Linked DNA regions of Homo sapiens. The protein of the gene in region 1 purifies or fractionates together with the protein of each later gene. This does not show direct contact. Each region holds a gene or a part of one and is shown in the gene's direction. Other genes may lie near its edges.

Evidence for each region.
Region 2: the proteins of ZNF44 (region 1) and SMARCAD1 purify together in Homo sapiens (affinity purification with mass spectrometry; one large-scale study listed by BioGRID and IntAct). This does not show direct contact.
Region 3: the proteins of ZNF44 (region 1) and TCF7L2 purify together in Homo sapiens (affinity purification with mass spectrometry; one large-scale study listed by BioGRID and IntAct). This does not show direct contact.

What each region holds. Positions count from the first base shown.
Region 1 is NC_000019.10:12,271,212-12,274,659, reverse strand, and holds the end of ZNF44 (zinc finger protein 44), read left to right. Parts: intron 1-594; exon of another isoform or gene 595-596; coding exon 597-2,253; 3' UTR 2,254-2,852; downstream 2,853-3,448. UniProt on the Homo sapiens protein: May be involved in transcriptional regulation.
Region 2 is NC_000004.12:94,273,787-94,277,446, forward strand, and holds part of SMARCAD1 (SWI/SNF-related matrix-associated actin-dependent regulator of chromatin subfamily A containing DEAD/H box 1), read left to right. Parts: intron 1-951; coding exon 952-1,011; intron 1,012-1,103; coding exon 1,104-1,179; intron 1,180-2,552; coding exon 2,553-2,688; intron 2,689-3,235; coding exon 3,236-3,373; intron 3,374-3,660. UniProt on the Homo sapiens protein: DNA helicase that possesses intrinsic ATP-dependent nucleosome-remodeling activity and is both required for DNA repair and heterochromatin organization.
Region 3 is NC_000010.11:113,163,195-113,165,820, forward strand, and holds part of TCF7L2 (transcription factor 7-like 2), read left to right. Parts: intron 1-2,360; coding exon 2,361-2,626. UniProt on the Homo sapiens protein: Participates in the Wnt signaling pathway and modulates MYC expression by binding to its promoter in a sequence-specific manner. Acts as a repressor in the absence of CTNNB1, and as activator in its presence.

The sequences.
Region 1 (3,448 bases):
AGTTTGAGGCTGCAGTGATCTGTGATGGCACTGGTGCACTCTAACCTAAGTGACAGAGCAAGACCCTGTCTTAAAAAAAAAAAAAAGGCCAGGCGCAGTGGCTTATGCCTGTAATCCCAGCACTTTGGGAGGCCGAGGTGGGTGGATCCACGAGGTCAGGAGATCGAGACCAACCTGGCCAACATGGTGAAACCCCATCTCTACTAAAAATACACAAAAATTAGCTGGGTGTGGTGGTGCATGCCTGTAGTCCCAGCTACTTGGGAGGCTGAGGCAGGAGAATCACTTGAACCTGGGAGGCGGAGGTTGCAGCAAGCCGAGACAGCACCAGCTGCACTCCAGCCTGATGACAGAGGGAGACTCCATCTCAAAAAAAAAAAAAAAAAAAAAAAAGAATTAAGAATCCCCATGTGCATATCATTGTCTTGAAAATAGCTGGGATTGAGTTATCTTGCACAACATTCAGTCCATTCACATTGAAGCAGGACATGAAGCTTATAGCTTGCCTGATAATGTTAAAAATGTAAATCTAATACCTGTTGATAAATATAAATTCAATAATAAACCTTTAGTAATGTACTTTTCATTTTTTACAGGTGTGATGTGGTAGAGAGATTTGGTAAAAGTAAAGATGGTAGTCAGTGTGGAGAAACCTTAAGCCAGATTCGAAATAGTATTGTAAACAAGAACACTCCCGCCAGAGTAGATGCATGTGGAAGCAGTGTGAATGGAGAAGTCATAATGGGTCATTCATCCCTGAATTGCTACATCAGAGTTGATACTGGACACAAACACCGGGAGTGTCATGAATATGCAGAGAAGTCATATACACATAAGCAGTGTGGGAAAGGCTTAAGTTATCGCCACTCCTTTCAAACATGTGAAAGGCCTCACACTGGAAAGAAACCCTATGATTGTAAGGAATGTGGAAAAACCTTCAGTTCTCCTGGAAACCTTCGAAGACATATGGTAGTAAAAGGTGGAGATGGACCTTATAAATGTGAATTGTGTGGGAAAGCCTTTTTTTGGCCCAGTTTATTACGTATGCATGAAAGAACTCACACTGGAGAGAAACCATATGAATGTAAGCAGTGTTCTAAAGCCTTCCCTGTTTACAGTTCCTATCTAAGACATGAAAAAATACACACTGGGGAGAAACCGTATGAATGTAAGCAGTGTTCTAAAGCCTTCCCTGATTACAGTTCATATCTAAGACATGAAAGAACTCACACTGGAGAGAAACCCTACAAATGTAAACAATGTGGGAAAGCCTTCAGTGTTTCCGGTTCCCTTCGAGTACATGAAAGAATTCACACTGGAGAGAAACCCTATACATGTAAACAGTGTGGGAAAGCGTTTTGTCATCTTGGAAGCTTTCAAAGACACATGATAATGCACAGTGGAGATGGACCTCATAAATGTAAGATATGTGGGAAAGGCTTTGATTTTCCTGGTTCAGCACGAATTCATGAAGGAACTCACACTCTAGAGAAACCCTATGAATGTAAGCAATGTGGGAAATTGTTATCTCATCGCTCAAGCTTTCGAAGACACATGATGGCACACACTGGAGATGGCCCTCATAAATGCACAGTATGTGGGAAAGCCTTTGATTCTCCTAGTGTATTTCAAAGACATGAAAGGACTCACACTGGAGAGAAACCCTATGAATGCAAGCAATGTGGGAAAGCCTTCCGTACTTCCAGTTCCCTTCGAAAACATGAAACAACACACACTGGAGAGCAACCCTATAAATGTAAATGTGGAAAAGCTTTTAGTGATTTATTTTCCTTTCAAAGTCATGAAACAACACACAGTGAAGAGGAGCCTTATGAATGTAAGGAGTGTGGGAAAGCATTTAGTTCTTTTAAATACTTTTGTCGCCATGAAAGGACTCACAGTGAAGAAAAATCTTATGAGTGTCAAATTTGTGGCAAAGCCTTCAGTCGTTTCAGTTACTTAAAAACTCATGAAAGGACTCACACGGCAGAGAAGCCATATGAATGTAAGCAATGCAGGAAAGCATTCTTTTGGCCCTCTTTCCTTCTAAGACATGAAAGGACTCACACTGGAGAAAGACCCTATGAATGTAAACACTGTGGTAAAGCCTTCAGTCGTTCCAGTTTCTGTCGAGAACATGAAAGAACTCACACTGGAGAGAAGCCCTATGAATGTAAGGAATGTGGGAAAGCCTTCAGTTCTCTCAGTTCCTTTAATAGACATAAAAGGACACACTGGAAGGATATTCTATAAGTGTATGGAATGTGGGAAAGCATTCATTGGTTTTATCACATTCAGATACTTGAAAGAAATAAATCCTGTGAATGTAAACGTGGTAAAGCCTTAAGAAGTTTCCAGGCTGGGCGCAGCGGCTCACACCTGTAATCCCAGCACTTTGAGAGGCCGAGGAGGGCAGATCACGAGGCCAGGAGATCGAGACCAGCCTGGCTAACATGGGAAACCCTGTCTCTACTAAAAATACGGAAAAAAAAAAAAATAGCCAGGCATAGTTGCTCACACCTGTAGTCCTAGCTACTCAGGAGGCTGAGGCAGGAGAATCCCTTGAACCCGGGAGGTGGAGGTTGCAGTGAGCCGAGATTGCACTACTGCACTCCAGCTTGGGTGCTAGAGCGAGACTCCATCTCAAAAAAAAAAAAAAAAGTTTCCATTTCTTTCAAATAGAGTTGCTGCCTGCTATATGCAAGAAGATTGGTTCCAGTACACCCTGAGTATACCTAAATCCACAGATGCCAGCTCTTTTATAAAATGGAATATTCGCATGTACCTACCCACATTCTCCTGTATACTCTATAAATGTCTAGATTAATTAAAATATCTCATGCATTGTAAAAGCTGTGTACATAGTTGTATTGTTTAGGGAATCATAAGAAAAAAAATCTATATGTGTTCAGTACAGACCCAACCATTGCAGGCCTATCTACATCGTATATATCACCTATAATGTTACAGTTTCTTGTTTCAATACTCAGATTACTTTTGTCTAATGACCTGAAAGAATGTGTTAACACCAACCACAATTCTGGTTCTTCTCTCTTGATAACCCAAGTATTACGATGGTTATGACAATGATGATTGCTGTATGGTGCCTAATGTGATGTGTAGAGGTGACTAGATGTGTGGCATCATAGATAAACAGTGAGACCTCAGGCTAACTTGAATCTTGACAGGACATCAAGACCTTCATCTATGTTGGAAGACCCAGGTTCTGATTGAAGATGTTGACTCTTTGCAGGAGGCTAATACTAATGTCAGCATCTGTTCAGCTTGAGGGCTGAAGATGTTTGTGTTGAAGGGTATGTCTTCATATTTGCAGATATTTAGTTAGAAGCATTGTTTTAGGAAGCTAGTTCTTTTTCTTTGAATCCCTAAAAAAACCTTAGTGTTCATTAGCATATTTTCCCTTATATGACACAGAAGCTTTTTTCAA
Region 2 (3,660 bases), on another chromosome or scaffold:
GGGTGTGTGTCGGAGGGGTGTTGTGGTTTCTTAGTTTGTAGAGATGAATATTAATTTTATGGTCTCTTTATACTTTTCTCCTTTGTTTATATATGTGTGTTTGATTATATTGGCAGTCTTTTAAAAAGAACTCAAATGTAAGTCAGTTTTAAAATTTTAGACCAAGGACGATTTATGTTGGTTTCATAATACTTTTAGTTACTTTTAAAAGTGACTAAGAGAAAATGAGTACTTTTAAATGTAGAATTAAACAGATACGTAATTAATTCCTACACACATAACTGTTCCATTCTTTCTCAATTCGTTGGATGTAGAAGTTAGAATAAGAGAATATTTGTACATGTGAATGTAACAAAGAAAACCCCCTTCTCTTTAAATTGGAGGTTAATAATCAACTGTAAATATAATATTTGGTCATCTGCCCTTCATTTTGATGCCTCACAAAACCTCAAGATCATTTTACATAGGTTTCATAAGGAGTAATATTGTAAAGGGTCTGTGATAAAAACAATCGCCATGGTATTTATATTTTAATTTTTAATTTTTATTTATTTTTTTTAAGACAGTCTCGCTGTGTCACCCAGGCTGGAGTGTGGTGGCTCAATCTTGGCTCACCGCAACCTCCGCCTCCCAGGTTCTCGTGCCTCAGCCTCCCGAGTAGCTGGGACTACAGGCGCCCGCCACCATGCCTGGCTAATTTTTGTATTTTTAGTGGAGATGGGGTTTCACCATGTTGGCCAGGCTGGTATCAAACTCCTGACCTCAGGTGATCCACCCGCCTCAGCTTCCCAAAGTGTTGGGATTACAGGCATGAGCCACCTTGCTGGGCCAGTATTTACTTTTTATAAAAGACTGATTTCTGAGTAGCACTTGTCAAAGTTTAGTGTTAATTTAACCATGTGAACATACCCTATTGTAGCAGATGCAAATAATGTCTCTTCTGTTCCATAGATAACTGGTTAAGGGAAGTTAATTTATGGTGCCCTACTTTGAAGGTCCTCTGTTACTATGGTAAGAATATGTCATTCTGCTTTTAACTTTGGAAATTAAAAATAAAGTACAGCACAATAAATAGTCATGTGTTTATTGTTTTTAAATTCTAGGTTCTCAAGAAGAACGTAAACAAATTAGATTTAACATTCATAGTAGATATGAAGATTACAATGTAATTGTGACCACGTAAGTATTGAGAAATTTGGGGAGGATGGATATTTATGCAGCCCCCAAATTTAAAAAAGAAATTGTAGTAGTACTATGTAGGAAAGTTTATGCTGTTAACTGTGATACGAAAGTAATAGAATGACTAATGTTGAGGATTCAGGCATTTTTTAGTTTGGTGTGTAATACCCATATAGGAGGTTTTTGTTAGTGAATCACCTCATTAATGGTGACTATAAAAAGGTTTTGCCTAGTTATTGAAAAAAGTCGTCTTGTAATAGTAATTTCTCAGTTAAGCTTAAAGTAAAATTTGAGATATCCCACCAAAATTATTTATATTTTTAACTTACAAATAAGTATCTGTAATAAATACAATGAAATTTCATTTTCTCAATGAAAAATTTGAGTTAGGGCAGAAATAAAAATGAAAAATAATACTAATAATACTACTTGGTAATAATTGATGTAAATATCTTGCACAGAACTTAATGCTCTTGTGTTACATTAGTTGATTTATTTAAAGTTCTATTTTAACTGTAGTTATTATTTCTCTCTACTGGCTTCTTGTGTAGGAGTCTGTCCTTTAAAAATTCATGCGGAATTTTATTTTTTCTTAATAAAACAGGCTCCATATGCAGTCTCAAGCTGCTAGCTATTAACTATTATTTCTTGGATCTAATCTGCTAGTTTAATAAAATATTAAGTTTTAAAGAGAAACATGTTTTAGCTTCACGTTCTTTTTTGTGCTTATTAAAATATAACACTTCATGGAGCAGATTACTTACAAGTTATACCCAAATTGACCTCCTCCTGGGTATGTAGAAGTTGTCCGATTGTAACATTAACATTTTCTTTTTTTTTTTTTTTTTTGAGACGGAGTCTCACTCTGTCCCCCAGGCTAGAGTGCAGTGGCGCGATCTCAGCTTACTGCAACCTCTTGCCTCCCGGGTTCACGCCATTCTCCTGCCTCAGCCTCCTGAATAGCTGGGACTACAGGCGCCCACCACCACACCCGGCTAATTTTTTATATTTTTAGTAGAGACAGGGTTTCACCGTGTTAGCCAGGATGGTCTCGATCTTCTGACCTCGTGATCCGCCCGCCTCGGCCTCCAAAAGTGCTGGGATTACAGGTGTGAGCCACCGCTCCCAGCCTTTTAACATTTTCTTTCAATTATGTATTGCAGCTTTCATAGCTTGGTTACAGTGTACATCAATAATTATTAAATACAAGTACGTCAGTATTTATTTGAGTATCACCCGTGTCTAGTGCTGTGCTTTAAGTACTGGCTGTTAGAAATGTGTAAATAAAAAATGATTTTATAAGACATTAAATTTCACTAGACTCCAAGCTCTTAAAGGTATAACCTTAGAGATGTTTTTTCTTTTGGTGACAGATATAACTGTGCGATCAGCAGTTCTGATGACCGTAGTCTGTTTCGACGGCTGAAACTTAATTACGCAATTTTTGATGAGGGCCATATGCTGAAGAATATGGGCTCCATTCGCTACCAGCACCTTATGACAATTAATGTAAGAGAATGTTTGTAAAGTTTTCCAAATTACTGTAAAATTTAGATTACGTAATTTAATATATGTAGTATTTATTAGCAGAATCTGTATTATGTAGTTTAATATATGTAGTATTCTGTGTTAGCAAGTTTTTTCTGTAAAAGGGAAGATAGTAAATATTTCACACTTTATGGACTAGATGGCCTCTGTCACGTATTCTTTGATTTTGTTTTTTAACAACCCTTTAAAAAATTATTAGGTCATAAGCCATAATTTACCTGTTCTATATGTTAAACTATTTATAAATAATCTTTCATCATCTCATAAAGGTGATACGAGGACACAAGTTACCTACTTATAAAAGAAGACCAATGGTTTTCGTATTCATTGCTGTTGATAATAGCGGACGTCAATTATTTAAATTACTATATCATTTATCACAGAATGTTAAATTATTAATAATGGTTTTAATTTATCTCTCCTCCCTTCACCTTTCACTGGGGAGGATAGACATGAAAGGAGTGGCTCTTTAAGAAAAAGCTAATATAAATTTTACCTTCATTCACAGGCAAATAACCGTTTGCTGCTCACAGGCACACCTGTACAGAACAATCTGTTAGAACTCATGTCGCTGTTGAATTTTGTTATGCCACACATGTTTAGTAGTAGCACCAGTGAAATACGAAGAATGTTTTCCTCTAAGACAGTAAGCATAAATGCATATTTTCTCCCAAATATGTTATTTGTGTTTTATCTGGGCCATTCTTCTGTTAGGTCTCTTTTGTTGTTTTCATAGTGCATATGCTCTATGAAGTAACTTTAAGTAGGTGATAACTCTATATTTGGATTGGTTTGGAAACCAGCCAAAATATAATGGGAAAGAAAATAGCAATTTCCCTAATCAATGGCCAGAAGTCTTGGTTAATATCCTAATTTTCTGAAGGATGACGATTTTAAATTGATGAAGAGCTCAGATATATAGTATGTGCGGAA
Region 3 (2,626 bases), on another chromosome or scaffold:
CCACGTCATGAGGGTGGGAGGGGTGAGGAAGGTACCAGAATGCTCCTAGCCAATCAGGGCTTCTAGCTTGCCACACAAGGTTTCTAGTTTCATTTGACATTTGTGGACATTTTAACAAGATTCTGTTTTGAGCCCACCAAGTTGCTTTTCCCATCTTTTCACTCTGCCCTAATATAGCATGGAATGCTGCTTGGTGCTGTTCCCTTGTCTTCCTGGTTGTTCTCCCTGCTTCTTTCTTTCTCCCTTTCCTTTCCTCTCTCTGTTTTTCTCTGTTGCTTTCTCAGTTTTGCTTATGCCCTCCCCCTCCCCACCTCCTTTCCTTCTCCCATTTTTAAAATGCATGGACATCTTAGTTTTTTGAGCATGTTTTGATCTGCAGGCTAAGGTGGTTTAAAACTCTGAGAGGCTTAATTATTTATCTTGGTTTCTGGGATGGAAGCAGAACCCATAGTCTATTTACTCTCTCCCAGGGAGAAAAAGGAACCTTGCCAAATTGAGGGTGAGAGGGGGTGGTGCTTGCTCCCCTAGAGTTCCTTCTGACCCAGAAGGAACAGACAGACCCTGAGGCCACTAGCCCCCATGAATCTCAGCCTCTGGGAGGCAGGGAGGACTGAGCATGCTCCCTTACACCCCTCCCCTCCTTCCCTGCCTTCCTGCCATCTTGCTGAGTCCAAACCCCAAGCACAGAGGGGCATGATCAGACAGCTCTGGGGCACAGACTGAGAGGAGGAACTCAGCACACCCTTCCTTTCCAAGGCCAGTGACATTGTCTGACAGTGGTTGCCTTCAAGCAGGCAGCATCTTGGTTGCTTCCAGCGGCAGAAAGCTGGCCAGTGCTTACACACGTGTTTCCAGTTGGAGTGTTATCAGCCATGGTTCTGACAATATTCTAGGGTCCTTAGATGAGCACACTTCCTGTATCTGCATTATTTTTATAGCATTAGTGGGGTTGATCCCCAGGCTCACCTTTCCTTACCAAATACCATCCCATCAGACTGGGATTAATGGGAGGAGAAGCTTTGAAGTCACATGCTCAATTTCTTGAGTTGATTTTCCCCGACCTCATCCTTTGATGCTAAGCAAGAAGGGCTCTGAAATTCTCATTCCTATTTCTTACATGAATGAGTAGTGAAGAGGGGAGATGCTGGTTTTGGTGCAGGGCAAAATTAGTCTTTCTGGTTTAAACACGAATCACGATAACCCAAACCCAGGAAGGTCCATGCTGCGATTCCCTGGCACTTCTTCTTTGTAGTCACTTCGGTGACCGGCTTGTGCTGCACCCTCCATTGACTAGCCTTGGCATATTGACAAGAGCAGGATGCCCCTCCATCCATCCCATCCTCACCATCTCTCCTTCCAACCTTCTCACTACGGGGTGGGGGAGGGGAAAGCCCCAAATCTTAAAAAAAAAAAAAAAATCAAGTTTGAATCTTAATTTAATCCACAACCTGCAGGCCATACAACCAGTTATTCTCGTTCCTTTGAATCATTTTCTGTTTTTCTTATTCTTCCCCCTCCCCCACCTTTGTTTATCCTCTTCTACCTGTTTTTGGTGGTTTCTTTTTTTTGTTTCGTTTTTTGTTTTTTGTTTTTGTTTTAAGTTTATTTTGTTTTATTTTTGTTTCCCTTCCTCCCTTCTCACCTGATTCTGACCTCTCTTGATTTGGTGTGGTTCTTAACAGACAAGCCCGAAAGCTCTCTGGGCGCCAGCAGCCTCATGGTGGTGGTGTGTTAAAACCTTTAAGCCTCTTGCTAGCGCTGCCTTCAGCTATGTGGGCTCAACAGTGAGCATTTTGAGAGTTTCATATTGATACGAGGCGGCTGGGGAAGGAGCTCTGTCTTTCTCTTTTAAACACACACACACTCACACTCACACACTCACACACACACATCACTGGGGGATGGGGGTGGTAGTGGTGGGAATGGGAGTGAAGGGCCGAGGAAACTTGATGGGAAAGTGAGGGACTGTCTAAGCCAAAAGAGCTTTTCAGTTCTTCTCAATTTGGACAAAGCCACTTTTTGGCAAATAGATGCCACCATCTGCAGGTGGCCGCCTCCATGCTGCTCTCGTATATAATTTGGGCATGGTGGGGCATGGGTGTTTAGTAGGGGTTGGGGGAAGCAAGTAGAGAGTTCAGACTCTTAAATAAGTTGTTTGCCAGAGCAGGCTTAGATCTGGGCACTGTGAAGTAAGCGACCCACCCTGGGGGGGCGCCACTGTAATTGTCCTCGGACCACTGGGCGTGCCACCTCTGTGGGACATCCCTTAGGTGACCTCAGCTTGGGTGTGAGCATTAGGTAACTCTCTCCCTTGGCATCTGTGCCCTCTATTCACAGATAACTCTCTCCCCTGTTTCTAGGAGAAAAAAAAAGTGCGTTCGCTACATACAAGGTGAAGGCAGCTGCCTCAGCCCACCCTCTTCAGATGGAAGCTTACTAGATTCGCCTCCCCCCTCCCCGAACCTGCTAGGCTCCCCTCCCCGAGACGCCAAGTCACAGACTGAGCAGACCCAGCCTCTGTCGCTGTCCCTGAAGCCCGACCCCCTGGCCCACCTGTCCATGATGCCTCCGCCACCCGCCCTCCTGCTCGCTGAGGCCACCCACAAGGCCTCCGCCCTCTGTCCCA